Homo sapiens: one gene and its partners. The protein of the gene in region 4 purifies or fractionates together with the protein of the main gene of each other region. This does not show direct contact. Each region holds a gene or a part of one and is shown on either strand. Other genes may lie near its edges. The genes, in order: QSER1, FOXJ2, CCHCR1 and MAGEA10.

What was found.
Region 1: the proteins of MAGEA10 (region 4) and QSER1 purify together in Homo sapiens (affinity purification with mass spectrometry; 5 studies listed by BioGRID and IntAct, with this or other methods). This does not show direct contact.
Region 2: the proteins of MAGEA10 (region 4) and FOXJ2 purify together in Homo sapiens (affinity purification with mass spectrometry; 5 studies listed by BioGRID and IntAct, with this or other methods). This does not show direct contact.
Region 3: the proteins of MAGEA10 (region 4) and CCHCR1 purify together in Homo sapiens (affinity purification with mass spectrometry; 4 studies listed by BioGRID and IntAct, with this or other methods). This does not show direct contact.

The regions. Positions count from the first base shown.
Region 1 is NC_000011.10:32,888,543-32,895,825, forward strand, and holds the start of QSER1 (glutamine and serine-rich protein 1), read left to right. Parts: upstream 1-4,268; 5' UTR 4,269-4,583; coding exon 4,584-4,792; intron 4,793-7,283. UniProt on the Homo sapiens protein: Plays an essential role in the protection and maintenance of transcriptional and developmental programs.
Region 2 is NC_000012.12:8,028,821-8,035,723, forward strand, and holds the start of FOXJ2 (forkhead box protein J2), read left to right. Parts: upstream 1-3,895; 5' UTR 3,896-5,013; intron 5,014-5,246; exon of another isoform or gene 5,247-5,357; intron 5,358-6,903.
Region 3 is NC_000006.12:31,141,905-31,147,809, forward strand, and holds the end of CCHCR1 (coiled-coil alpha-helical rod protein 1), read right to left. Parts: intron 3,905-5,905; coding exon 3,792-3,904; intron 3,590-3,791; coding exon 3,544-3,589; intron 3,399-3,543; coding exon 3,262-3,398; intron 3,170-3,261; coding exon 2,981-3,169; intron 2,885-2,980; coding exon 2,783-2,884; intron 1,510-2,782; coding exon 1,358-1,509; intron 1,231-1,357; coding exon 1,059-1,230; intron 813-1,058; coding exon 688-812; 3' UTR 535-687; downstream 1-534. UniProt on the Homo sapiens protein: May be a regulator of keratinocyte proliferation or differentiation.
Region 4 is NC_000023.11:152,132,804-152,135,612, forward strand, and holds the end of MAGEA10 (melanoma-associated antigen 10), read right to left. Parts: coding exon 1,708-2,809; 3' UTR 507-1,707; downstream 1-506. UniProt on the Homo sapiens protein: Not known, though may play a role in embryonal development and tumor transformation or aspects of tumor progression.

The DNA of each region.
Region 1 (7,283 bases), on a different chromosome or scaffold from region 4:
CGCCTCTCCCTCCACACCTCCCCTCAAGCTGAGGGAGCCGGCTCTGGCCTTGGCCAGCCCGGAAAGGGGCTCCCACAGTGCAGCAGTGGGCTGAAGGGCTCCTCAAGTGTGGCCAGAGTGGGCGCCAAGGCCTAGGAGGCGCCGAGAGCAAGCGAGGGCTGCCAGCACGCTGTCACCTCTCAGGACTACAGGTGCACCACCATGCCTGGCTAATTTTTATTTCCTTTCTGATGTTTTAATTTAATTTATGATGTTGACCTAAGAGATGGAAACCAGGGCTGCTCTGGCAAAGACAGGGCTTATAGTTTCCCTCAATGCCAGAAGAGAAGGGAAAAATTTAAAACCATATCTTCTTTCCCTGTTCAAATCACTTCTCACACACATATTCCTTGTATTCTCAGTGAAACCACAAACTTGACCTTCTTGGATCTTTCTTCTTGATGGTTGGTCTATTTATAACATAGGAATGTGTGGACTTACTGACTACATTTCTAGTTAGGCAACCCCAAATTCTGCATTTCCCAACAAGCTAATGAACAAGGCCACCTCAGTGAAGATGGGGTTTCCTGGGTCTCACCCCAACTGATTCCCTCCATCATCTTAAAGCAAGTCACTCAATACCAGGCCTCAGCTTCCTCAACTACAAAAGGAAGGCAATGAACTATGTACTCAATAGAACTACAATCTTTCTACCAGTTGAAATACTTATTTTCTTTTTTTTTTTTTTTTGAGAGGCAAAATCAATTACTTCCTTTTCAATTGTCCTCTGGTGCTTTATTCCAATTTCTATTATATTTAACACTATCCTATTGCATTACAATTAGTTGTGTGTCTGCCTCTTTTCCTCATAAATTACAGGTTCCATAAAGACAGGCGTTGTATTAAATTTACCCTCGTATTCACAGCATTTAGTATTATGCTTGGCACTGTATTAGGCTCTAAATACATATCTATTGAATGAATAAATATGTAAGCTACTTTAAAAATGCCCATTCAGGCTGGATGCGGTGGCTCATGCCTGTAATCCCAGCACTTTGGGAGGCTGAGGTGGGCATATCACGAGGTCAGGAGATCGAGACCATCCTGGCTAACACGACGAAACCTCGTCTCTACTAAAAATACAAAAAATTAGCTGGGCGTGGTGGCGGGCACCTGTAGTCCCAGCTACTCGGGAGGCTTAGGCAGGAGAATGGCGTAAAACCCAGGAGGCAGAGCTTGCAGTGAGCCGAAATCGCGCCACTGCACTCCAGCCTGGGCGACAGAGCAAGACGCTATCTAAGAAAAAAAAATGCCCATTCAGAAGTTCCAATTAGTCATTTACATATTCCTTTCCTTTCCCCCCCAAAAAAGAAAAACCAAAACACTCTATCTCAATTCTAAAATCGGGGCAAGATTTGAAAATTGATTAAATCAAAGGCAGTTTGGTTTTAAGATGAATTGGAGTAAATCCTACACTTAAGAAGGAATCTTCCAGCACTTTGGAAGGCTGAGGTGGGAGGATTGCTTGAGGCCAGGAGCTCAAGACCAGCCTTGGACACCATAGCGAGACCCTGTCTGAAAAAAAACAAAAAAAACTCTTTCCTTCTTCCTCACCTCCATCTCCCACTTCCTTCTGAGTTTATTGTCTAGAGTTAGTCATGCCTTAGAACATGCCCATGAACAATCTCCCCACATTTTCCACCCTAACTCCCATCCCATTAGAAAATCAATACGTATTTCACAGGTCGCGGTGGCTCACGCCTGTAATCCCAGAACTTTGGGAGGCTGAGGCAGGCGGATCATCTGAGGTCAAGAGTTCGAGACTAGCCTGGCCAAAATGGTGAAACCCGTCTCTACTAAAAATACAAAAAAATTAGCTGGGCGTGGTGGCATGCGCCTGTATTCCCAGCTACTCAGGAGGCTGAGGCAGGAGAATCGCTTGAATCCGGGAGGCGGAGGTTGCAGTGAGACGAGATCACCCCACTGCACTCAAGCCTGGGCGACAGAGCGAGACTGTCTGAAAAAACGAACAAACAAAAACACGGGACCAACAATGCTCATTCTAGAGTTTGACATTACCTAGATCAGACTTGAAGCAGCTTGGTTACGAATCATTTGAGAGATCCCGAAACGTTCACAGAGCTGGAAGTATATTTTCAGTAGGGAAGAAGACATTCTTCAGATAGTATCATCAAGTGTACAAAATTTTTAAAAGATTTATTTACATATATCAAAGCATCACATTGTACCCCATAAATGTATGCAATTATGATTTGTCAATTAAAAATAGTATTGATAAAAAATGTAATGATGTTATTTGTAGACATGTAACATTTGAAAATAAATATAATTGTACTGATTTAGAGTGAACTAAGGAAATTTCATTTAAATGGCAAAGGAACATATGGTGACAGAGTAATATTACTAAAAATACTCACTAGAATTTTCCCTTAATATCTTTCCCTGATTTATGTGACATAAACAAACTACATAATGGTGTGAGGGACTATAAAGGTTTTATTGCCACTTGTTTGGTATTGCCTGCGTAACTCACTCTGAGTGCCAGTTGTGGGTATCTCAAACTAAGTGTCATAAAACATTTATAGCATGCCACTCCATTTCCTATACTTTTCATAGAGACAAAACTTTAGCGCTCACAAAAGTACTTATAAATATAATAGCTAGTTGTGAAAACTTTTTAATTTAGATCCCACATTTCCAGTTTGCAGGAAGAAAAATAAATGTAATGAAGATTTACGTTACTTCTCTGCATGAACTCAGATTAGTTCGCAAATTCCTTTTCAAAGAAAAACCACTTTTCAAAGATATCCTCAGTAAATGCATTTTGTAATTAACATAAAATTGGCAAAGTCGCTGTGCCTACACGTTTGAATTCATGTGTAAATAACGACTACTCACTTCCTTGCTTCCCCACCCGGGGACCAGGCTCCAAGCATCACAGGTGCAGAAAGACTTGCAAAAAGGAATGAATAGGAACAAAAGGATGTAGGCGCCAGGAGGAAAACAGGATCTTCCAGAACAAAATTAATCTCGCAAGGCATAGCAGATCCAACACCAGATTATTACCAAAGTTTAAACTTTTTCAATGGTCATCAGAGATAGCGTATCAAGTTTATTAGGTCTTTCACTACGGCTGATTTGCTTAAACCTTTATGTTATGCTTATCTTGAGGGATAGATTTCTGTGCTAAGCACATAATAGGTGTTAAACCAATATTGATTTTTAAAAGGAGGTGGTCATTAAATAGAAATTTTACTGTTATTTTAACCTTTAAATTTATGGCCCAAGGGCCAAACGATGATTTGTACGATTCCCTAGTTTCAATACTTGTGAGTTATTACAAGAAATACAACTCTGCTATGCAACAGAAGAACCGCAAATAGTCATTAAATTACCGCACACCAAGCAGCTTGGAGATCAGATAGGAAATGTTTGGGGAGAGAGTCCTGCTGAAGTTCCAAGTCTCAAACAAAACCCCTCAACATCAGAGTGCATGGTGAGTTTAAATTTATTGTAATTAAAGTCATCCAGATGGTAGTTGGATTAATCAATGAAGAGGTGGTTATCTATCTTGGGATAGAAGATTCTGAAACCCAGAGCGAGAAAAATCCCCAAGGTGGGGGTGGGGACAGTTAATAAGAGCCCTTGGGAAAGGCCCTTTCAGCGAGGATTGGAAAATAATACGTTTGAATTTGAATCTCTTTGAATATAAATCTCCCCTAACAGCAGGAAAAGGGTCCTCTAGCCCAGCAAGCTTTGGGGAGGGAGTAAGCGGAACTGCAAAAGAGCTCGCTCAGCTGTTTCTGGATTGGGGCGCAGAGAAAGAAATCGCGATCAGGGAACTGAGTACTGGAGTCCCTCAAAATAACCCGAAGGGTCAAATAGTGAGCTCCAAGCAAAGCGTTGACCCGGCTACCCCTGAGCAGCGCCCTACGCTGGGTTCCACTCCACTTCCCCTCCCCCGCGCGGGGCGATAGCCAGGCGCGGTCCCTTCCCACGCGGGCCGCGGCGAGTGCGGACAGCTCCCTTCCGGGCTGCGGAAGGCGGGAAGTCTGCGGTTCGCGGGCTCCGGCTGGCGGGCGCCCCTCGGAGTCCCTGAAGTCGGCCGGGCCCCGCAGGACCCGCGCCTTCTCGGCCCCAACTGTCCCTCGCGAAGCGTCCTGCGGTGGCGGAGGCCTCGCGGCCGCCCGCCAGCCCCGCGAGCGGCAAGCGCGGGGCTCAGAGGGGAGGCGGGGCAAGGCCGCGGGGCGGAGGGGGGCGGGAGGTGCATCCTGGGAAATCCACCAACATGGGGCGCAGCGGCCGCCGCCGCCGCCGCCGTCGCCGCGAGTCCCGGCCGCGGGTGCCTCCGCTTCCCTGACGCCCAGCTGGGGCCTCGCCGCCCGCCGCGGCCCGGGTCTTTGCGGCCCAGACTCGCCAGCGCGCCCTTCTCCCGCCTGCTCGCCGGGGCCATGTGAGGGGGCAGCTCCCTCCACCGCCGCCGCCCCCTCTTCCTCCCCCGCCCCCTCTCCCTGCCCGCCCCCGTCACACGGAGCCCTGGAGGATCCCCCGCTGCTGCCCGCCCTCCCTACGCCACCCCCACGATGGACAGGAACTACGCGACCTCGGGCTTCACCGAGCCGCCGCCGCCGCCGCCGCCCGCGCCCCCCGCCGCCCCCGTCCCCGCCAGCGCCGCTGCGCAGCCCCCCGCCCCAGCCTGGGCGTACGAACCCCGAGCCGCCGCCGCCGCCGCCAGCAGCAGCTGCAGCAGTGGCAGCTGCAGTAGCGGCAGCAGCCCCAGCCTCAAGGCCAGGTAGGGAGGGTGGGCGGCGGGGTCGCGGTGGACCAGGAAAGGCCGGGGATGCGTTTGGGGCCTTCGCTCGGTTGCAGCGCCGCCCAGAGGTCTGGGCCGGGCGGGGAGCCCTCCGCTCGCCCTCGGCCAGCTCGGGGGAGGCGGCTGATGACTCCTACGGGGTGGTCGCGGGTAGGTGGGGGCGCCCGGTGCAGGATTCGCGCCTGGGGACGGCGGGTGAAGGAATAGCTGGGCGGGAGTCGTGGGGCTCCGTCACCTCTTGGGTCCTGGGCTCTCACATGGTGAAGTTTGGGCTCGTGGCTGAACTCGGGATCTGTGAGACCCAGGATTGGCGCCGGGGGTCCGAAGGGGGCGCCGGAGAGTTTGGGGCAGTGGCGATCCATTGTATTGGAACCTGGGTGGCCGACAATGCGGTCTTGGGGACTCCGGCGTGTGAGGGTTGCGGAGGCGGGAGAGGAAGAGTCGCGGAACCGCGTCCCGGAGACACTGGGGGGCCCGGGAGGGCTGGGCTACGGGAGAATCCCCGGGGCGCAGGGCAGAAGAGGGGGCCCGGCAGGGCGCGAACGCGGCTCCAGGGCCGGGTGACATATGTTTGCGCTGGTGGCCAAGATTTAGGCGATTTTTCTTCCACGCGTTCAAAGTTGCTCTTAGGTTTCCTCCCCTTTTAACAACAGCAGGAAGTAAGGAATCTTTCTTTGCCTTCTATGCCTCGGGGTGACTGAGAGTTGGGAAGAAATGGGGCGGGGGTTGGGGTGGGGGTAGTGAAGGCCGTAAAGGTTGAAGAACCAAAGCATGCTTCTCCATCTCGGCCTTTAAGGTCCGGGTGCATTATGTAGCGTGGGGTTCAAGAGTTCATCTTGCATGACCAAGGGAATCTAAAATTTTGACTCCTACTTGATATTTAAGCTCGCGGGAAATGTGTAGTAGTGCCACACTGTGAAACGGTCCCATTTGAATGATAACTGGAAGGCGTGGTCTGGTTTGGAGAATTGGTGAGCGGGGTGTTTTAAAGCCACCTCTCCCGAACAATACAGAATCTGGTAGGTGCAGCTTCTGATTACATGGACCAGGGAATCCTGGGTTGCTAATGACTTCATCCTCAGCTACCAACAGGAAGCTTCGTGGCTTTATGATCTCATCAGATTTCTTCATTATTTTTCACGACAGAAGTGAACTTTTGTTTTAAGTTTATACATTACCGTGTTCCAGGTTATCTTCTTTGTTTTTACGAAAGTTCTACGTTCATGATTGAGCAAATAAGTGTGAAGGGTAGCTGGTCTTTGTCTTAGATTGTCCATTGGGACGATTGTGAAAGAATGAGAAAAATTTGCTTCAAGAATAGGAATATAAGCTTTCTCAGAAAATTTTAGGCCCTTTGTTTTCAAGACTTGGGAGTTAACAAAAATAATGTGATGTGCCAATTTGGAGCTAAGTAATTAAATGCTGAAACCTTTCAGAAATAGCCATAATTTTGTATTACATACAAGTAAGCCATTTTAAGGAGTTTCATGAAAGACGTTTGGCACTTCACCCATTATTTCTTGCTGATGGTAATTTGACTATCTTTTTCAAGTAGCTTTTTGCATTGACTAGGATAATTTACAAATGAAAATTACTTTCTCATCATTGAACAGCATGATAGGTATTTGTGCCGCATTTTTTATCTTTTAAATGAAAAATATTTATTAGGTAAATGGAACTGAAATACTACCTAGTTACTTCTTTTAGTAGAATACTTCTGAGGCAAGAAACTAAAATCTACTTGTCATATTTTCCAAATGTTATTTATCAGAGTAACACGAAATGACTTCCCAAACACACTTGAAAACAGTAAGTAGATTCACTTGGCACACATAATCTAAAGGAGATTTATTTTCTGTTTACTAGAAGTTATTGAATCTTAAATATTACCCCTCATGCCCTCTCCCCCTGCTTTTTTAAAAAATAAGCGGTGGGGGGAATCAGCTAAAATACAGCATAGAAAATGCAGGTTTACCCCCCTCCCCCGCCAGCCTGCTTTGTTAACATCTTGTATTGGGATCAGGCCATCTGTACAGAGTTACACTTCTGAATTATACCTCATTTTATTCCTCAAACTGTGCAAATATTCCCTTTGATTTCAGTTATATCAAAAATGGCAAATCTGAAATATGCCTTGTAAGTCTAAATATTCTACACTTCAGAAGCTTATTTATATTTTTATACCATTTTAAAAAGCTTTTTCATAATGCACATATCAGTTGAATGTTTTTGTTCCCCTTTGTGGCAGTTTCTTGTGAAGGTGCAAATGAGTACTAGTTGTGATGATGTAATATGGATACTTATCCATAAAGAATTAGCCTGTCTGTCACCTTGTTTCCTGTAACCTATTCAGAAGCTGACAGATGGTAATGACATTCAGTTGTTGCCGACAGGGATCTAACATCCTACTTTATGCCTTCTTGGTCTTGAAATACATCATTTTCATCAGTTGATGGGAAGGTACATGATA
Region 2 (6,903 bases), on a different chromosome or scaffold from region 4:
ATTTTCATATTTTTGTAGAGACGGGGTTTCTCCATGTTGGTCAGGGTGGTCTTGAACTCCTGACCTCAGGTGATCCACCTGCCTTGGCCTCCCAAAGTGCTGGGATTACAGGCATGAGCCACCACGTCTGGCCCAGAGAATAGCATTTTAAAAAAACTGTTGTAAAAAGCAACATTCGTTCAATCTTTCATCTATCATCTGTACTCCTCTCCCCCATTACTTGATTATTTTGAAGCAAATTTCAGGCATTTCATGTCTAAATACTTTAGTATTCATAAATATTCATAAAATGGTAATTCCATTAGCACCTAAAGTATACAATAATTGTTTGATATCGCCCTCAGTATTGGAATTTTACCAGTTGTCTCATAATATTTTTTCCAGTTGCTTTGTTTTAATCAGGATCCCTCAAAAGGTCTACATATTGTATTTGATGGACATGTCTCTTGGTCCACATATATTGCATTTGGTTGATAAGCCTCTCAGTCTCTAGGTCCTTCCTCCTTCAGGCATTTAACTAAATATATTACATGTATAAAGGCACATAATCCCTTCACAACATTATGAAATAGGTACTATTATTATCCCCATTTTACTGATGAGGAAACTGAGTCACAAAGCAGTTAAATGACTTACCTAAATTCTCACAATTATTAGGACTCACAGTTGAGAACCACTATTTTTGTTTCACGTAATACACAGTCTCTAATAAGTGCTTCCAAAACGTGCGTTGTAGCATATTAGTCTCCAATTTTATAAAGAATAGTTTTGCTCAAGGTAAATTAACACTCATGAATAATTATATAACATGTTTTATTACAAAGAAGAGTGGATCCTTACATTTTAATTTCTGTATGTTTCAGTGACTTAAAAAATCCTTCTCCGTATTACCCGCCTTAATAGAAAGTAAAGTGAGAATGAATGTAAGTGCTTCCCCCCAATCTTAGGGCAAAACCATACCAAACCAGCCTTGTCAGTTTCTTTTAATTTTAAAAATTACATAAGCAAATCTACACAAACACTAATTATAGATACATTAAAAAATGAAGTAAATTAAAATAATCCATAAACTCACATCTTTGGTGTGTATCCATCTTCTATGTGTCTATTGGTATGCACACAAATATATGCATGAACATATATATATTTTAAAAAGCAACTATATGATTGCATTATACAAATTTTAAAATATTATTTTCTCACTCAAATAAGTCAGATATATAAAACAATGGTTCTTTAAAATAATGTATGCCTACTGCAAAATATCTAAATGATAAAGAACATTATAAAAATAAAACAACTCCACTCACTCTACCTTTCAGAGATAAATACAATTATTCTTGCAAATGCTAAATAGTACTCTGTTGTACAGATGTGCCATAATATATTTAAAATTACCCTATTTTGGATATTTAGGTCTTTTCTAATTTTCCAGTTACAAAAAATACTGCAGCAAATGTCTTGTAAAAACCAAATAATTTCTTGAGCTTTTTATTTTTCCAAATTGCCAGGAAGATTCTAATCCTTCCCTCATGTTTCCATTTTTAGTACAACTGCCTGTCACTCAAGCCCTCCAATTTCCATACACAGGAAATGTCAAAAACGGTTGAAACATAACAAAACATCTAATACATAGCAAGAAAGATTTGCCGCCAAATTATCTGCGTGTGGGAGAATTATTTAATGCCTCAAAGAGAGGAAAAATACATCTTTAAACCTGAATATAGGAAGTGTGAGCAGGAAGAACAGGCTTGTTTTGGTTTACTGCCTTTAATTTTGAGGATGACTTTAAATTCTGATCGCTCCGGACAATGGTATAGAAGTCAAGAGCTGGGCATCGGAGTCATTTGGATTTAAGTCCTGACTCTGCTACTTACTAATTAAGCGAACTCACACATAGTATCTGTAAGTCACAATTTTCTCATCTGTAAAAGAAGTATAATAATAGTGTCTTAGGGAATCGCTAGAATCATCAATGTGACAACACATGCAGAATGCTCAGTGCAATGCCTGGCATATTGTAAATATAATTATTCATATAATATATACATACAACTTAAGTATGCAGTCTTTTGGGGGCAATTCAAATATTTTGCAAGCAATATTTTTGTATTCGTATTATCTTTTTTTTTTTTTTTTTTTGAGACGGTGTCTCACTGTCTCCCAGGCTGGAGTGCAGCGGCACGATCTGGGCTTACTGCAACCTCCGTCTCCCAGTTTCAAGTGATTCTCCTGCCTCAGCCTCCCAGGTAGCTGGGATTACAGGCACGCACTACCACGCCTGGCTAATTCTTTTTTTTTTTTTTTTTTTTTAGACGGAACCTGGCTCTGTCGCCCAGGCTGGAGTGGAGTGGCGCGGTCTCGGCTCACTGCAACCACCGCTTTCCGGGTTCAAGCGATTCTCCTGCCTTAGCCGGCACTACAGGCGTCCGCCACCGCGCCGGGCTAATTTTTGTATTTTTAGTAGAGACAGGGGTTTCACCACGTTGGCCAGGCTGGTCTCCAATTCCTGACTTCAAGTGATCCCCCCGCCTCGGCCTCCCAAAGCTTTGGGATTACGGGCGTGAGCCACTGCGCCTGGCCTCCTATTATCTTATGTGCTATAAAGTAGAGAGTAGGCCGGGCCGTGTTTCCTGCCTGTAATCCCAGCACTTTGGAGGCATAAAAAGGGAGAATAGTTTAAACCCAGGAATTAAAGACCAGCCTCGGCAGCATACTGAGACCCTGCCTCTATTTAAAAAGAAGAAAAAGATAAAGAAAGAAAGGAAAGAAAGTAGGGTAGTTTGATAAAAGTTTAAAAAGCCTGAGTATGGGCCGGGCGCGGTGGCTCACACCTGTAATCCCAGCACTTTGGGAGGCCGAGGAAGGTGGATCACGAGGTCAGGAGTTCGAGACCAGCCTGGCCAACTTGGTGAAACCCCATCTCTACTAAAAATACAAAAATTAGCCGGGCGTGGTGGCGCGCGCCTGTAATCCCAGCTGCTCCGGAGGCTGAGGCATCCCAGCTGCTGGGGAGGCTGAGACAGAAGAATCGCTTGAACCCGGGAGGCGTAGGTTGCAGTGGGCCCAGATCGTGCCATTGCACTCCAGCCTGGGCAATAAGTGAAACAACACCTCAAAAAAAAAAAAAAAAAAAAAAAAAAAGCCAGAGTATGAAATATATGAGAATTTGCAGCAGAATAATATGACTTCAGGATGTGACAGCTGTAAAGGGTAAGCAGGCCAAGTATCAAGGTCCCTTCTTCGCTGAGCAAGATTGCGGAGAACAAGGGCCATGCACAAGTTTAGGAAGCTGAAACAAGGAACAGGACCCAGATCTTCTGATGTTTATTTCACCGTTACACGCTCATTTATCATGTATCCACTCATTCAAGGAGCATTTACTGAATTCCAGGATGATATAAGGGTAACATATAAACTTCACCCCAATCTTCACCTCAATGCTCATGATCCTTTATAAATTATCTCGAGGGAAAGAGAAGCCCATCAAAGACAGTCCTGAGAAAGCTGGGGCTGTTCATCTGTATACGGAGTTTAACAGAATGAAACGCCGGAGTTGGGGTGTCAGCTGGAATTGACGGTATACGGTGCGCACTAGGGACTCTCCCGACGGGGAGCAGTGAGTTGTCATCCCGGGTAGACGGCGAACTCCCGGAGCCACGCGGCCGCAGGTGGGCGAGGGCGGCGAGATCCCTCGCCGGCGTGAGAGCGGCCGTGGCTCTCCAGGCGGAGCGCACACCGGGTAGCGAGGCTCGCGGCTCGGCGCTGCCCGCGGCTCGGCGTCTCCCGGCTCCTCCTTAACCCGCGCCGGGAGGCGGTGGCGGCAGCGGCCGGCGGGCGGGGGAGGGGGAGGGGCGCGGAGCGCGGCGCGGAGGCCGGGGAGGAGCCGGGGCCTGCAGCGGAGCCGAGCCGAGCCCGAGCCCGCGCCGAGCCCTGACACTGTCTGCCCGCCTTCTGGCTCCCCGGGAGCCCAGACTGGTCGGAGCCCGAGCGGTGGCAGCGCGGGGAGCCCCACGCGCCGAAGGGAGCGGACCCGACAGGACGGCCCTAGAGGAGGTGCTGCCGCCACAGTAGCAGGGACCGGAGTCTCGAGCCGCGGCCTCCCGGACCGTGCTGCCCAGGCCAGCTCAGGGACAGCCGGGAGTACGAAAGCCCCACCCTCTGGGGCACCCCGGGAGCGGAGGCGGGAGCGGGGACGCGAGCAACCTCTCCCCCTGTTGGAGAGAAAAGACCCTTACCACTCGGGTGAGGGAAAGAAGAGACCCCTGGAGGGGACGCCTCTCTCCTGCCTAGAGGCGAGGAAGACCCCTGTACTGGCCGGGGAGGAGACCCCCAGAAGTGGAAAGAAGGGAGCTTTCCGTAGGGAAGCAGAGTGAGACCACCCTAGCGCGCCCCCGCCCCTCCAAACACACACTCTCAACAGTTCAGGACTTTGGAGGCAAAGAGAGACGGGGCTGTGCCTGTGGAGTAGGCACCCTCGGCCCACCACTATTCACAGGAGACAGGAGTCCTTACGTTCAGAAGCCACTCCAGGGAAAGAAGAGGAATCGGCTTTCAGCCTTCTGGAGAGGGGAAGACCTCCCCCTCAACTTCCTCGTGCCTAGACAGTGGAACGGGGTGGAGCCCCTCCGCTCCTATCTCCAGCAGACAGAAAGAGCCCTCCACCTCAGAAAGATCCAGTTTGGGGGGGAGGGGAACTCCCCCAAGGGGGAGGAGACAACTCCTGGTTGGGAGAGGCTCCTCCCCTCCTCCCCCGGGTAACAAGCAGGGTGTGGGGGGTGTGCCACCTTCCCCAAGTAGGACCTCCTTCTCCTCCCCCTCCCCCTCCTCCAACCTTGACTCCTCATCCTCAGGGGACCCAGTTCCCCTCACCAACTTGGGAGGCTCAGCCTCGTCCAGGAAGAGCCACTGAGGATGAGAGCCGTCACCTGCCTCTGAAGAGGGGAATCCCTCCAACCCCAAACTCCAGTACCAGGTGGTTCCCTCCCTTTGCCGGAGGAACCTTGGAGACAGGTTAGTGCTTTCTTTCATCTTCTCTCTGTCATTGTCTGGCACTAGTGGGTGTAGGGGGTTGAGCTGGTGGATCGTGGGTTTCACTGCCGGGGAAGACAGAGTGATGACTCAGAAAATCCAATGGGAAATGTGATCCAAGGGAGCTCCTGGATTTGAACCCACATCTTGCTGCAGAAGCTCTGAGAAATGGGTTTCTTAGTGTTTGGGGACTAAAGGGATGGGATTCATTTTAGGTCCCTTAGGGAAGTGGATGTTTTCATGCTGAGGAAAAGGGTTATCGGAAAACAGCTGCATTTTGAGAACATGCATACTGTGTAGCAGTGATTTACACAACCCAACCAGTGGTAAGATTCCCATACCACCCTTCACCCTTGGGCCTTTTCCCCTGGAGAGTGGGCTGTCATGAAAATCACGGTGGCATCTGGGGTCCTGGCCTTGCCCAGGGCATGCCGAGGTCAGCTTAGTGTTCACCAGAGGTGTTCCCTCCAGCTTACTGCAATTATAGCTCCCTTGACAAGAAAAGCAATCTGTTCCTGCTCATCCTATCTCAGATACCAAGAGGCCTCCTCTCCTGACATTTCCATTCCTAGCTGGATGTATGCCTCTGCCCATAAAATCCAAAGGGAAAATGGGAATCCCACATGTTCTGAGGCGAGAAGAAAGTGTGCAGGGGAATGCCAACTCCCGGGTTAAAGTGCTTCCTTGATGCTGGCCCTGAACCACTGCCCCAGTCCCCTTCTCGACTCCTGTTTTTTGCTCACAATTCTTCAGGAAAAATTAGATCCTGGATACGAAGGGAGGAGGGCTGCTGCTCCGCTTCTGTCCAGACTTCCAGTTAAACAAGTTGACCACTGGAGAGATTTCACTTCTGAGGAGTATATAAAGTTTCCTTCCAGAAAAGTACCTAATAGTCTCATCCTCTCCCTTCCTGTTTCTTGTTCAGTTCTGAGTCCCTCGAACCTTGTGTTAAAGTTTTCCTTCATAAGCTAGGGAATTATCAAAGTCCAGAATCTTCAGAAAAGGCAGGAAAAGGGTACCAGGAAATCCTCCCCTGAAGCCTAGGCTGTTTTTAGGAGAGGTCACTAGCTGGTTGTCTGCTTTCCTGCCTCACCATTAGCAGATACCTTATCTTCTGTCTCACAGCAAGGACAAGTTGTGAAGGAGGCTTCATCTGACTTGGCCTTTCATATTTCCTCCTCTCTCTGGGGCATGGGTGAGGTCTACCTAAATTCCTGAGTACAGTCATTTGTCCTGGAAGCTACTGGTGGTATATGAGATAGGGCACAGGTTTGTGTGGCTGTGCTATAGGACAACATGCATATACTTCTTAATTCATGTGAATGTGGCTCTCTGTTTCAAGTGGGTATGTGTGTGGAGACAGGTACTTATGTGCTTTTCAGACTATACTCCAGTTACCTAGAATTGTATGTTTCTGGTGGGCCTCTAGAAGCAGGTGCCTCTGTACAAGGACATGGATAGGTGGTGGTAAGGATGGCCACCTGAGGGGAAAGGCTTGGCCTCCCCCCAGTCAATGGGAGCCCTCGTGACGGTCTACAGGACAGTCCTTTAAGCAGCAGGGCAACCCAGTCTCAGGCTGGGATCATTTCTTCTAGGACTAATAAGAGAGCTTCATTGCTGATACCTCTGGTCTCAGAAGGATGAGGATCCTTGACTCCTAACTCCAGAACTCCTTCCCCTACCTTTTACAAAAGAGGCCTCGCTGGTTAACAGCAGCCTGTTTCTTATAAAGTACTTCACCAGATGCTGGCGTGCACCTGCCTGAATGGCTCAGGGTGAACTATATCACAACATCTCCAAGTACACCACCGCCACGCAGTTTAACTGGCCCTGCTTGGACTGAGTTCCCTAACCCTGCTTGCTTCTCTGGAA
Region 3 (5,905 bases), on a different chromosome or scaffold from region 4:
GCAGCAGCATCCTTGAGCATTCTCTACAGAGACCTCCTGGCCTCCACAGGAGCCCACTTCAGGCAGGCCTCTGCACAAGGTCCCCTGCTCAGAGGCCTCTCCCCAGAGTCAGTTTCTATCATATCATCGTACTGTACTTTCTCTTCAAGCACTTATTTGAAACGATCTCGTTCATCTGTTTAGGTCCCATCTGCTCGCTCGCTCTCCCACTAGGATGTAGGCTCTCAGGGTCCAAGTGGCCCCCAGGCTAATACAGTGCCTAGCTCTGACATTCCTGTTGAACGAGTGAATGTTTCATCTTCCCCACTCCTAGCATTTATCATCTTCCAGAAGAAAAGAGTTTTAAAACAAAAGTTGAGAATAAAGAAAAGCAGGAGCTTCCCAAACATTTCCAAAGCTGCCTAGAAAAAGGATTTGAAAAGGTGCCACCCATAGAGAGAGCTATGGGTGGGACCACTTCTCACAATCTCCAAGAGAGATGGCTGCAGGGAGAATTCCCACAGATTCCCAGAAATAACATTTCCAAACAATGGCTCCTTCTGTAGTCGTCTTTATTTAGAGCAGAATTCAGACTCAGCTGGTATCCCCCAGGGCAACCCCAGGATGGGGAAGGGCTGGTCTGTCCCCACCCACTTCTCCAGGATCCTCCCAGCCCCCAGGCTGGCTTTCCCTCCAACTGTCAGCTGCTTAGCTGCTCATCTGGGGATTGGAGCTGGAGCATCTGTCAAGGTTGTCTCCTTGACAAACAGCTTCCTCTTTGGAAATGGCTTCACTCAGGTCCTGCAGGTCATCGAGCAGGACAGAGAGGGACCCTGGGAAGGAAGACAGCAGATGAGCACCAGACAAGGGAAGGTGCTCGTGGTTACAGAGGAAACAGGGCTGGCACAGGAAATGAGGAATGGGAGAGAGGAGGCTCTTTGGTCCAAGCTGGGCATCGCTAAAAGAGGCTAAGGGCCTCGAAGGACCGCAGAGAACAACACTCATCATGCGAGAGTCTGAAGAGGAGATTCCTGAAGTGCGCGCATTTGTCCCTTGTCCCTTTGTGCTTGGCCCAAGACCTTTTATGGACTCCCTGGTGGGCACTGCTGCTGCTACAGGTGCAGATGCTGAACACTCTGGAGGCCTGGGGCTGGACACCACAGATTTCTTCTTATCCAGTAGGGAAGGAAGAACTGTCAACAGTCGCTGCTGCTTGTAACGGGAGAGGAGACCTTCCTGCTGCAAGGTGGCCTGGGAAGGAGAGGGTTAAACCTAGCCCGGATAGAGCCTCCCTCACCATCCTCTTTCCACACCTCTAGCCCAGGAACCAGCCCAGGATGGGCCCTAGTGTCTGCCTGTCTGCCCTCCTGTCTCCTACCAGCATGAGGTTCTTATCCCTCTCTAGCTCCTGCAAGCGCCGGGCCAGTCGCTGCCCCTCCTCCTTCCGGGCCTCCTCCTGCAGACGCCTGAGTTCCTGGCTCCGCTCCTTTTCCTGGGCGGCTCTGCGCTGAATCTGGCGTAAGGAGACCACTACAGAGAGGCCAAGGCACAGAGGAGGCAGGTGTGAGTCAGGCCAGAGGCAGCCAGGCACCATGAAGACAGGAACAAACGCTGGGTCACCAACTCTGTGGCTTGGGGAGGCTGTTCTGCTCTGTGGATCTGTCTCTTCTGTACAGTTGGAGGGGTGGGCTGATGCTCTAGGAGCCTGGGAATCTGAACCTAAGTATCTTCCTCATCCCTGAACCATCCTGGAGTTCCTCAGGGGAAATCTGAACATGAACTGGGTTAGATTTTGTGCAATTAGTGTTCACTGTCTTAAAGTGTGATGATTGCAGCTATATAGGAGAATTTACTGGCTTTGGGAGATGCGGCTGAACAACTTATGTTTACAACTTACTTAGGCGTGGTGGCTCACGCCTATAATCCCAGCACTTTGGGATGCCAAGGCGGGCGGATCACGAGGTTAGGAGCTCGAGACCATCCTGGCCAACATGGTGTAATCCCGTCTCTACTGCAAATACAAAAACTAGCTGGGCATGGTGGTGGGCGCCTGTAATCCCAGCTACTTGGGAGGCTGAGCCAGGAGAATGGCTTGAACCCGGGAGGCAGAGGTCACAGTGAGCCAAGATCATGCCACTGCACTCCAGCTGGTGACAGAGGAAGACTCTGTCTCAAACAACAACAACAACAAAACATTAAATGATTACAACTTAAAGTGATTCAAAAGATGTACAAATATGTGTGTATATAGATAAGAGACCAAATGTGGCAAATGTTAACTGCTATATTTAGTTAGAGAAGATACATTCATTACACAATTCTTTTTTTGACACATGGTCTTTCTCTATCACCCAGGCTTGAGTGCAGTGGCACAATCTTGGCTCACTGCAGCCTCGACCTCCCGGGTTCATGTAGTCTTCCCACATCAGCCTCACAAGTAAGCTTGGGGTACAGGTGCCCACCACCAGGCCTAGCTAATTTTTGTATTTTTAGTCGAGACAGGGTTTCGCCATGTTGTCCAGGCTGGCCTCAAACTCCTGACCTCAGGTGATACACCCACCTCGGCCTCCCAAAGTGCTTGGATTACAGGCATAAGCCACCGCGACCGGCCATATGCTGTTTCTTAATCTGGTGCTGGCTACATGGGTGTGTTCACGATGTGATAATTCATCTGTGCTACTCCTGGATACCTTCATTACTTCCTGTAATGAAGCTTTGAACACACTTTGAGGGGAAAATAATAACCTTATGTCTTAACACTTCCTTCTTCCTGGAAGGCCCTATCCACCCTGGCAAGGCTCACCGGCCTTGGCATGCTCCCTCCGAGCCTCGTTCAGCCTCCTCTCTGTGTCTGAGAGTTGCTCCCGCAGCCGAGTTTCCACTTCAGCCACCTTTTCTTGCAGGGCTGGGGTGAAAGTGCAGACGGGGCATATCAGCAGGAGCTTTGATTCGCAGTTCCCACCCCACCCTCCAAGGGAAGCACCCATTTCCCTCTCGACACCTTGCCCGTAGAGTTCCTGCTGCTGGGTCAGCTCCTGCCGCAGACTGGCAGCCTCCTCTGTGCTCTCCTGCTGGCCCTGGCGTGCTACCTCCAGCTGCAGCCCCAAGCTAGCCAGGGACTCCTGGGTCTGCTGCAGCTCCTGCTCCAGCTGCTGGGCCACCTTGCTCAGCTGCTGCCGCTCTGCCTCCCCTAAAAGGAGGGGGTGCTGGGTCAGGCCTCTCCCAGCACCCTAGACACCGGGTTTTTCCTCATCCTCTCCACCCCCTGGCAACCAGGTGTACCTTGCTCCCGAGCCCGGCCCACCTCCTGCTGGATGAGGCGGGCACTCAGCTGCAGTTCTGCATCCAGGCGGTTCCGTTCTTCCCGCAACTGCTGCAACTCAAGGCTCACGTCTGTGACCGGTGGTGGTAGGGGACAGCTGGGACGGGGAAGAGAAAGAGTCAGAAGAAATCACCCAGCTGCCTGATCCCAAAGCCCCCATCCCACCTCAGTCCTCATGGTTTTGGGGGTCCCAGCAGCCAATGCCCTAAAGCCCCATCCACCTCAAAGTGCCCAAACTTCACCTCTCCTGGCGCAGCTGAGCAAGGGCAAGCTTTCGAGCAATCAGGCCTGGAGGGGAAAAAGCAGGGAGAAAAAGAGATGAAGTTTGCATGGGAGAAAGTGGGGACAGGGAGTAAGGGAAAAAGAGATGCAAGGACTGGTGAAAGGAGGAAGGTGAATGGATGTGGGATCAGAGAGAGCTGGGTCAGGAAGAAGAAAGTCCGAGCTGGTGGGGTGGGGGCAGGACGTGGCTCGCAGTTGTCCTACGCACCCCGAATGGTGTGGACCTTGCGGACAGCATAGCTGAGTCGGTTGTTGAGGCTGGGAAGCTGGGCGGCAGCCCCTTCCACCTTAGCCATGGTGGTCTCGAGCCAGATCTGAGAGCTGGAGAGGGCACAAGTCACTGATCCTCCATGCCTCCCCTCATTCCCAAAGGACTTGCTGTGCCTTGTATAGACAACTCCCTCTAATCCTGTCCCATTATACAAGTACAGAACGCACAGCTTCCGTCAATTATCTAAAGGACCCTTGCCCCAAGAATGCATTAAATGACTATCTTTTTAAGCAACCTGTTAAGCTTATTTCTCACAACTGTGTTTTGCTCACTATCGTGTATCAAAGAGTAAAGTTATCCTCTCTGATCAGGGGCAGTGGCTCCTGCCTGTAATCCCAGCACTTTGGGAGGCCGAGGCGGGCGGATCACCTGAAGTCAGGAATTGGAGACTAGCCTGGCCAACATGGTGAAACTCTCTCTACTTAAAAACACAAAAATTAGCCGGGCATGGTGGCTCATGCCTGTAATCCCAGCTACTCCAGAAGCTGAGGCACGAGAATCACTTGAACCTAGGAGGTGGAGGTTCCAGTGAGCCAAGATCGCACCCCTGCCCTCAAGACTGGGTGACAGAGCGAGACTCCATCTCAAAAAAACAAAAGAAAACAAAGTTATCCTCTCCAAGCCCAGGAGTGTCGATCTAGCACCAATGACGGGCAGGTCCACATGCTTTACCAGCTGGCTGTGCCAGAAGTAGGACCAACCTGGCTCATGAAAACTGAGCAGCTTAAACAGGCCCCAGGAGGAGGCCAAGGAGTGTCTGGGGCCGGGCTGGGGTTTCCTCAGGAGAGTCCAGGTCTGCACCCACAGAAAAACACATGATGATGAAGGCTTGCAGCTGCATCCCCAGCAGCACAGCAAAGTTCACTTTGATCTGGAAATTGTTCCAGTAGATGCTTCCAACACCTACCACAGCCCTTATTAAAGTCTCCAATTACCTAGAGACAATCTAATAAACCCAGCAACAATCAGAGTTTGGACTGCTTTAAGCCTGGAGGACTTTCGGCAAATGCATCATTACACAGACCATTTCTGTGATCGCCTGGTACCAAAGTCAAACCCTGTCCACAGTGCATCTTTCTGTTCTCCTGGAGGTAGGGGGCACCCGCGATGGATTGAACCTGGGTGGTAGGTCATTATAACTAGTTTAATTCCGTGCAAGTTTGAAATTTTTCATAATTTTTAAAGCTAAATTAGTCCCTAAGGTACAAATCCAAGAGAAGGAAGTGATGGGCAAGGACTCATCCTGCATCTTAATTTCGCTAAACCAAAAATTATCTTTATCTAAATTAACCCATCAAGAAGAGCCTCACGATAACAATAAACATTTACAAGCCAGAGACTGTGCTAAGAACTACCTGCCGGCCAGGCACGGTGGCTCAAGCCTGTAATCCCAGCACTTTGGGAGGCCGAGGCGGGCGGATCACGAGGTCAGAAGTTTGAGACCAGCCTGGCCAACACAGTGAAACCCTGTCTCTACTAAAAATACAAAAAAGTAGCCGGGTGTGGTGGTGTGCACCTGTAATCCCAGCTACTCAGGAGGCTGAGGCAGGAAAATCGTGTGAACCCGGGAGGCAGAGGTTGCAGTGAGCTGAGATCGTGCCATTGCACTCCAGCCTGGGTGACAGTGCGAGACTCTGTCTCAAAAAAAAAAAAAAAAAAAAAAAGAACTACCTGCCTTGGGTACCTCAGTGTCTAAGGCTGAGGGGAAGTCATCACCAGCACAAAGAAGCTTTGCTGTTTTCTTAGAGGTTTTTCTGAAGGTCATACAACAATTGTAGGTAATGAAACAACTAGGAAGTTGGTAGGAGAGACAAAGGCTGGCAATTGATTTAGAAGGAAACTAACTGGCTTACATTTTAGATGGAATAGTAAGCAAGTTAAGTATATAATAAGCAAGTAAGTATATAGCTTTAAATAAATAGACTAGGCCAGGTGCAGTGGCTCACACCTATAATTCCAGCACTTTGGGAGGCTGAGGTGGGTGGATCACCTGAGGTCAGGAGTTCAAGACCAGCCTGGCCAACATGGTGAAACCCCGTCCCTACTAAAAA
Region 4 (2,809 bases):
CATATGATGGGTATCTATCACCTAGTTATTTTTTTAATTTAATTAGGAGTTCAACTGCACTGAGACAAGAGTGCAGAACACCTTCCATTCCTGCCCCAGGTGGACTCCTCTCTGTTCATCCACCACCCAAAAGGAACTGCTCAGAGCAGTTTTACATCCCAGGATTTGCTCTGTCAACTATGTGAGGCTCTGACCCTGGCACCACCCAGCTTCTTTGGATTCATCTTCACCAGAAGGAACTGCAGTTTCTCAAAGCCCCAAAAGTCCTGGCTCAGAGGATGTACGTGACCACTCTCACCTACAGCCCAATACCCTCACCCCGTCTTACTTTTCTTCTGGGTCTTAGAGGACATCTTGCCACCTTGTTACTTGACTGCAGCCCCTAGACTCTACCACCCTATGGGTAAAGGTGGTTCTGGCTTAACATTTCCACTACAGACCCAGGGCCTTCCACAGACCAGATGCTCAGTGGATGTTTGGGGAAAAAATGCACTAGTGAGCAAAGGTTTCATTTATTACAGTTTAATTTCGACTTAACAAGATCCAGGGATATAACTTTTAATTTTGCAGGATGATAAACTAAAAATAATAAAGAAATAAAAATACTAACACTTAAAATTATTTTCTCTATTTTACTATTTTTTTCATATTTCCAAGAAAATTACTATTCCAATTCCATGTTATTTTATTACAGATTACAAATATGATGGAAGGGTTCCCAATTTGTTTTACAAAATAGCAAAACTGTTTCTTAAACTGGATAAACAGAAACGAACGTGTGACCTTAGATTCTGAAGCTCATAAACATTCTAGTAAAAGTAACAACATTTTAAAATACCAAGAAGAGGCTGGGTGCAGTGGCTCACACCTGTTATCCCAGCACTTTGGGAGGCTGAGGCGGGCAGATTACCTGAGGTCAGGAGTTTGAGACCAGCCTGGCCAACATGGTGAAACCCCATCTCTACTAAAAAATACAAAATTAGCCGGGTATGGTGGTGCACACTTGTAATCCCAGCTACTCAGGAGACTGAGGCAGGAGAATCGCTTGAACCCAGGAGGCGGAAGTTGCAGTGAGCCGAGACTGCACCACTGCACTCCTGCCAGAGCAATAGAGTGAGACTTTGTTAAAAAAAAAAAAAGAAGAAGAAGAAAAAGAAAATAAAATACCAAGAAGAAAAGAAAAGAAGTCCCCAGGTTATCCAAAGAAAACAGTAAGACAAAGATGTTATGCACTGTATTTTCCTCAGCCTCAGCCTGGCCCTCCACCACATACATCATTGATTTCCATTCTCATTTGTTTTCATAAATTAAAAAAAAACAAAAACATAAACAAAAACTGACATGTAATTGTAGATATTTATGAGGTACAATTTGATGTTCTGATTCATGTATATGTAGTATAATGATCAAATCAGGTAGTGTATCCATCACCTCATGCATTTATCATTTCTTTTTGGTGACAATATTGAAAAGCCTTCCTTCTAGCTGTTTTGTAATATACAATATCTTAATGTTAACTATAGTCATCCTACTGTGCAATAGAACACTAGAACTTATTCCTCCTATTTAATTGTAATGTAACTACTGCTCTACTCTCTACTTCCATGATACCAACTTTTTTTTTTTTTTTTTTTAGATTCCACATATGAGTAAAATCATGTGGTATTTGACTTGCCTTTTAAAACACAGTGAAGAATCTGTCTTACTTTATTCAGGGTAGGAGAAGCTACCTGTAGCGCTAGAACTTGCACTGGCCATGGCAGTAGTATCATCTGTGGTGGCAATTCTGTCCTGGGCTCTCTCTTCCTCATCTTTCAAAGCCTCCTCATACCACAGTGGGAAGGATCTTGGATCACTCCCATTTACCTTGGCCAAAAATTTCAGGAGACTCATCTTCCTAATTTCAGCATGAGCCCTTGGACCCCACAGAAACTCATACCGTGCAGGATCACTGCCAGGCACCTGCCGGTACTCCAGGTAGTTTTCCTGCACCCAATCTTGGGTGAGCAGCTTCCTGGGCTCCCCATAAATGAGGTGCTCCATCCCATCATACAGCCCCATCATATTCAGTGCTTCCCAGATGACCTCCTCAGGGGTGCAGTAGCCCTCTATGAAGACTATGCTTAGGATAAGTATGAGAATGCCAGTCTTGGGCATGCTCTGGACATCACTCAGCATCCCATCATAGGTGAGGCCCAGGGAGGTGACAAGGACAAAGGAGTGGCCAGTGGGATCCACTTCCTTTACATCAATGCCAAAGACCAGCAGCATGCACTCGGAGGCTTCACTAAACAACAAAGGGAAGTGGTCTTCATAATTTCTTATGACACTCTCCAGTATTTCTGCCTTTGTGATCGGCTCCTTCATTTGATACTTGAAGAGCAGAAACTGCACCAAATCAGTCACCTTTTCATCTATCTCACTTCTGGGTAAAGACTCACTGTCTGGCAGGACCTGTAGGGTGCTTGGACTCTCCTCCTTTTGGCTGCTGGAGCCCTCATCAGATTGATCTAATGGAAGGGAAGCAACGACCGAGGGGGAGGAGCAGGCTATCTGAGCACTCTGGGGAGGATTTGGTGTCTCATCATCAGCAGAAACCTCCTCTGGGGTGCTTGGTATTAGAGGATAGCAGGAGGAGGAGGAGGAAGAGGAGGAGGAGGGAAAAGAGGATGGAAAAGAGGAGCTGGTGGAAGTGGATGATGAAGCATCCTCCTCCACAGCCAGGGGAGCCTGTGCACCCTCGAGGCCCTGTGTCTCACTTTGGGATTGAAGATCTTCTTCAGGCATGCAGCGCTGACGCTTTGGAGCT